Linked DNA regions of Homo sapiens: region 1 is linked to region 2. Evidence: fine-mapped expression QTL. A gene starts in region 2. The other region holds a variant in brackets. All regions are shown on one strand. Distances are from middle to middle. Region 1 overlaps CD81-AS1 (CD81 antisense RNA 1). Region 2 holds the start of TSPAN32 (tetraspanin 32).

Evidence for each region. PIP is the estimated chance that this variant, and not a neighbour inherited with it, causes the effect.
Region 1: its variant is the best candidate, but not a certain one, in a credible set for the expression of TSPAN32 in whole blood (TOPMed, PIP 0.89).

Annotation. Positions count from the first base shown.
Region 1 is chr11:2,363,273-2,366,283 of GRCh38, reverse strand. The region is part of intron 1 of CD81-AS1 (CD81 antisense RNA 1); the gene reads left to right. Among named protein-coding and RNA genes, the nearest start is that of CD81, 13 kb to the left of the region's middle. The variant C/A (reference allele first, on the strand shown) is at 1,245.
Region 2 is chr11:2,300,662-2,303,375 of GRCh38, reverse strand. It overlaps TSPAN32 (tetraspanin 32), which reads right to left and starts at 1,363. Exons shown (of 10, transcript NM_139022.3): 1 at 1,161-1,363; 2 at 418-532. The coding sequence starts at 1,226. It overlaps C11orf21 (chromosome 11 open reading frame 21), which reads left to right and starts at 1,458. Exons shown (of 4, transcript NM_001329958.2): 1 at 1,458-1,620. The coding sequence starts at 1,568.

The sequences.
Region 1 (3,011 bases), 63 kb before region 2:
GAATGCAGAGCCTGCCCCGTCTGCCGTGCCTGGAGGGCACCCCTCACTCCTCAGGCTCTCCAGAAGGTCAGCTATGGGGGCAGGGTCTGGGCCCATTCTGGACCCTGCTGTATCCCAGGGACCATTTAAATGGGGGCCTGGCACAGACTAGGGGTTCAGTTGTTAAATGAATAAGCAAAGCTCAAAGCCCCCTATGTTCCTTGCCTGAGCCAAGAAGGAAGCCTGGGCCTGGCTTCTGAGTCCACCCACCCTCCTTGTGAGGTAGGAAGGCAGTGGCATTGCATAACTGACCACCTACAGGACCGGGCCACGCCGAGAGGGAGCAGGCGCCTTGATGCTCCTAGATCGTCGGCCAGACTCCCCCTCCCCAGTCCTTGGAGCCTCCTTGCTTCTTCAACCCCTGTCAGAGTCCGTGGGGCAAGGTGAGACTGGGAACACTGTCTCCTCCCCCAGACGTGGCTGATCTCAGCCTGGAGCCCCACCCCAGGGCTGCACAGGACCAGGGTCCAGATCATCAGCCCAGGATGCACGGTGGACTATGTGTGCCCAGCACTCGTGCACCGAGAGACCCGTCTTGTTTCCCATGAGCCCCTCGGTGCTGGGTGCCGGGTGAGAGCATAGCCCTGGTGATCCTGGTGGTCTTCTCCAGACTCTGATGTTTCCTTCCAGTCTCCCGGCCCTCCCCTCAATGTGCAGTGTGTGCGGGTTGAGGGGGCTGCTGTGGTCTGAATGTGTCCCCCATCTCTGTAATCATGATGGACTAACATCATTGTCGTGGGAGCGGGCTCTGACAGAAGGATGAGTTTGGTCCCCTTCTCTCTGGCTGTCTCTCTCTCCCTCTCTTTGCCCTTCTGTCATGGGATAAGGCAGCACAAAGACCCTTGCCAGAGGTGGCCTGTCGATCTCGGACCTCCCAGCCTCTAGGACCAGGGGCCAATAAGTTAGCCAGTCTGTGGTTTTCTGTTCTAACAGCACACGATGGACTAAGACCACAGGCCAAGTCTCCCCAGTGTATCACCATTAGGCCACACCCTGATACGGTTTGGATCTGTGTACCTGCCTAAATCTCATGTTGAATTGTAATCCCCAATGCTGGAGGTGGGGCCTGCTGGAGGTGATTGGCTCATGGGGGTGGATTTCCCCCCAGTGCTGTTCTCGTGATAGTGAGTTCTCATGAGACCTGCTTGTTTAAAGGCATATGGCACCTCCCCTCTCTCCCTCTGGGCTTCCTCCTGCTCCGGCCA[C/A]GTGAAGTGCCAGCTCCTCCTTTGCCTTCCGCCATGATTGTAAGTTTCCTGAGCCCGCCCCCAGAAGCCATGTGGATGCCAGCACCATGCTTTCTGTACAGCCTGGGGAACTGTAAGCCAAGTAAACCTCCTTTCTTTATGAATTACGCAGTCTCAAGTATTCTTTATACAGTGCAAGAACGGACGAGTACACCCACTTTGTCTAATCCAATCACACTCTGCATGACTCTCCATCAAACTCCACATAAAAATACACGGGTTTCCCTCTTCCCTTGGGTCCTCATTTCTTTTTCCTTTTCTTTTTCTTTTTTTTTTTTTTTTTGAGACGGAGTTTCACTCTGTCACCCTGGCTGAAGTGTAATGGCGTGATCTCGGCTCACTGCAACCTCCACCTCCCGGGTTCAAGCAAGTCTCCTGCCTCAGCCACCCCGGTAGCTGGGACTGCAGGCACATGCCACCATGCCCGGCTAATTTTGTATTTTTAGTAGAGATGGGGTTTCACCATGTTGGCCAGGCTGGTCTCGGAACTCCTGACTTCAAATGGTCTGTCCACCTCGGCCTCCCGAAGTGCTGGGTCCTCATTTCCGAAGGCTCCTATACGAGATGAAACTTATATTGAATAAATGTGTCTGCTTTTCTCTTGTTAATCTGTCTTTTGCTGTGAGAGCCTCAACCATGAACCTAGTGACGAATGAGGAGACAAATCTTTTCTCCTCCAGGTGCTTTGGACATGCTGACGGGTTCTGTGAGGGTCTCACTGTTTAGAGAAGCAGGACTCCCATCACAGGGCCACAGGCAGGGAGCACACCACACCAAAGACAGTGGGACGCCCAGCCGGGCCGGGCTGGGACCCAGGGAAGCCCAGGAGGAGACTGCCCTCTGCCCCACTCGCCTGGGAGCACCTCCCCCGGGGCGTTCTTCCAAATCTGGTGCCTGCCTTGATGTGCTCCCGATTCCTTTGCTCCTTGTCCCAACACTCCCTGTGCAGGCTCTGGAGACAGAGCTCTGATGGCTCGTGGGTCCCCATCACTTTCACTCTTGGCCATGTCAAAGGCTGCTGGTCTGACCCTGAGTCCCTCTGCAGTGCCCCAGGGGTCCAAGGTCCTGTGGGTCAGAAGGAAGGGCCTTGCCCCACCCCACCAGGGGCTGTGGATGGAGCCCCCAGCCAGGGCTGTCATGGGAGGCTGTGAGTGCCCACACCTGTCCAAGCAGCTGCAACTGCGGTTCTTCCTGGAGCTGTATACATCCAGCCCTTTGGGCGTCTGCCCACTCTCCCTCTGGCGGAATGTGACCCACCTGCTGGTCTGATTCCATGATAGGAGAACAAGCATGTTGCAGTCCCGACCTTCAGTGCCTCATATGTGACCTTATTTGGAAATAGGGTCACTGCAGATGTAACTAAGATATGGCCATTAGTATCCTGCTCAGATCTGACCGGTGACCTTAGGAACAGGGGAAGTTGGATGCAGACGCACACACAGGAAGGACGCCATGTGAAGGTGAAGGCAGAGATTAGAGTGATGCTCCACGAGCCAAGAAACACGAGGCTGCCTGGGAGCCCCAGAGGCTGGAGGGACTGGGCAGAGGCTGGAGGGACTGGGCAGAGGCCACCTCGTAGCCCCCGAAGGAACCAGCCCCAACAACAACTTGAGCTTGGACTTGAGGCCCCCAGGGCTGGGGAGATAAATGTCTCTGTGAAGGCTGCCAGACTGTGGCGCTTTGCTGTGGCAGTCCTAGCAGACGACTGCAGGAGACTTTAGTCATGCT
Region 2 (2,714 bases):
CCCCTCCCCACCCACATCCCAGGTCCTGAGTGGAACATCAGCCATGTGGAGCCCTCATGGACCTGCTGTGCCCAGCCCCAGGCCAGTCCCAGGCCTGCCTGGGACTGAGCCCTGACTGCACAGAGCCAGGTCCTGACCGCACAGAGCCACTTCCTGACCCTGCCCGACATATACCCACACTGTGCCCACGCTCCTGTGGGGCACGAGAACCAGGCAGGAACACTGGCTGTCACCCAGACCCGAGGCCCTGCCCAGGGGAGCTAGGACTCCAGGGCAGCCCCTCCCTGCCCCTGACCACCTCTGGCTCCTGCCTAGGGCCTGGCACCATTCTGGCTGTGAGGCGTCCAGCTGGGCTCGTGCCAGCCACCCTTGCACCCGAGGCCCCTCCCGATGCAGCCAGGCCTGGACCTCACTTACCCCATTGGTGCACAGCCTGGTACGGGTTCTTCTCCAGGGACGCTCGGCGGATGACAGCAAAGTGGGCCCCGAAGTAGGTAAGAGTCACCATGGTGGCCACAGAGAGGCCCAGCAGCTGTGGATAGGGCAGACTCAGAGTGTGGGGCATGGGACTGCTGCAGGAGCAGGGAGCTCGGCCCCAGCGGGCAGGGTTGGGGCTCTCTCCAGCTTCCCGGTCCCGTGAGAGACAGGCTCAGCTGCAGGGATTCCCGGTGTTTCCGTGGAGTGGTCTCAGGAGGCCTTCACTGCAGACGCCCCAGCACACTCACAGGCACCCCCACATGGTAGACGCATACACGCACAGCCCAGCTTCCCCAGACACCCAGGACCTCTGATCATTGTGTCTACGGAGTGGGAGTGAGCCCCACCCCTGTGCCAGCACCCTCCGGGGCAGGAAGGGGAGAAGATCCCTGGAGCCCGGCAGCCAGTGCCCCTCCACCCCAGCTCGCCCCAGGCCTCAGCCCCACTCAGGCCTCCTCCAGGCTCTGTGCTGCCCCTCAGGAGGAGAGACGGGGTTGCTCATGGTGGTCCCTGCCTGCCTGCGGCTGTCTGCAAGGGCAGGACACATGTCTGCAAGGGCAGGACAGGGACAGTAGGGCTGGTGTGTGTGTCAGGGGAGGGATAATCCCTGTGCTGAGGCCCTGCCACCCCTCACCCCTGCTCACCCCCACCCACCACCCACTCCTGCCCGACCTGCCTGTTACCAAGATAAAGAAGCAGGTGACCAGCATCTGGCATTTGGCAACCCTGACTCGACTCCAAGGCCCCATGACGGTTCCTCTCCTCTCCTCTCCTCCCCTCCCTTCCCCTCCCTGTGGTTTCCAGCTGGGCAGGGGCCTCAGACCGCAGCTCACTGCCCAGGAGGTAGGCTGCATCCGCCCCTCTGTCTGTCTGTCAACATCGCCCTAGGACCGAGCTGCTGGGTGCCCCGGAAGAAGGGCAGGCAGGAAGGGGAGGGGCAGTGAGGTTGGCTCCCCCCACCACCTCACCCTGGTGCCCCCAGCCCAGCCCAAGACACCAGGGCATTTGCTGACATCTGAGGCCCTTCCCAGGAAGACATGGCCTCGTTCTTGGTGTGGCCACTGAGGACGGCGCTGAGAGGGGGAAAGTCATGGGCAGGACCTGGTGTGGGATGTGGAGGAGACGGCGCCCGGGGAGGAGGAGGTGAGCTCCCCGTCCTGGGAGTGAGCAAGTGTGGACTGGGCCTTGGGGGCGTAATCCTTGGAGGAATTTGGATGGGGTCTCCTTGGAACATCATTATTGAGGTGTTCTTAGGAAACACCCTTTGAAATGTCCTGTGACAGCTTAAGTTTTGAGAAGGTCGTTGGTTTTAATGCCTTCGTGGGCGGCACTCATGGATATTTTGTCGCAGAGCCTTCTTGGGGCCACAGGGGTGGGCTGGGGCCTCGCTCACACTCACGTGGGGCCTCCAGGGGGAGGCTTTGTAAACCTCGAATTTGCAATTACACCGAGCCGTGTAATTACGTATGGGTGGGGGCAGCGCTGCGGCCCCAGTACAGGCAGGGTTTCCGTGGGCCTCTGGGGCAGGGTGGGCCTGAAGAGGGTGAAAATGTTCCAGGTGAATCCATCATTCAGGGACCACTCCGGGCCCTCCCAGGAGTGCTAACAGGCGGCTCTGCTCGCCCCTCGGTGCTGGAATTGCTCCTCCTGCATTTGGTCAGGACCTCATCAAGGGGGAGGGGGCCCCAAGACCTGCAGGCATGGCAACCCCAGCGTGGCTGTGGGAAGAGGGCCCAGCTGCCGCCCGCTCAGGAACGCTGCTGGAGGAACTGCTGAGGCCACCGCCTCCCTCCCTCTGCGGAGGGAGAACCAGGAGAACCAGGAGGGACAACCAGGACCCCCGTCCAGCCCAGCACCCCCAGGCAGCACCCTCTGCAGCTCTGGCCCCCAGGAATTCCCACCCTGAGTCTGTGGGGGCTTGTGGAGACCTCAGATGCCTGGCACCCACAGTGTCACTTCAGCTGGGGGCCTAGGTGTGGCTCAGACTGGGGCGCAGGTATGAATGTAGGGGTGGCAACAAGAGTGAAGGTACCAGGTCTAGGGGCAGGAGGCCCCCGGGCTGTGCAAGTGGGCAGCCCGTCCTCTCCAGGGAAGATGAGCTGCTCTTGGCTATGTCTGGTTCGCCCCTAGAATTGTCTCTCTCCAACCTTGACCTCCCTGGAGCTGGTGAGGCGGGCCTGGAGCACCACCCGCTTCTGGGACACCTCTTCATCAGGTCTGAAGAATTTCGGAGCAGG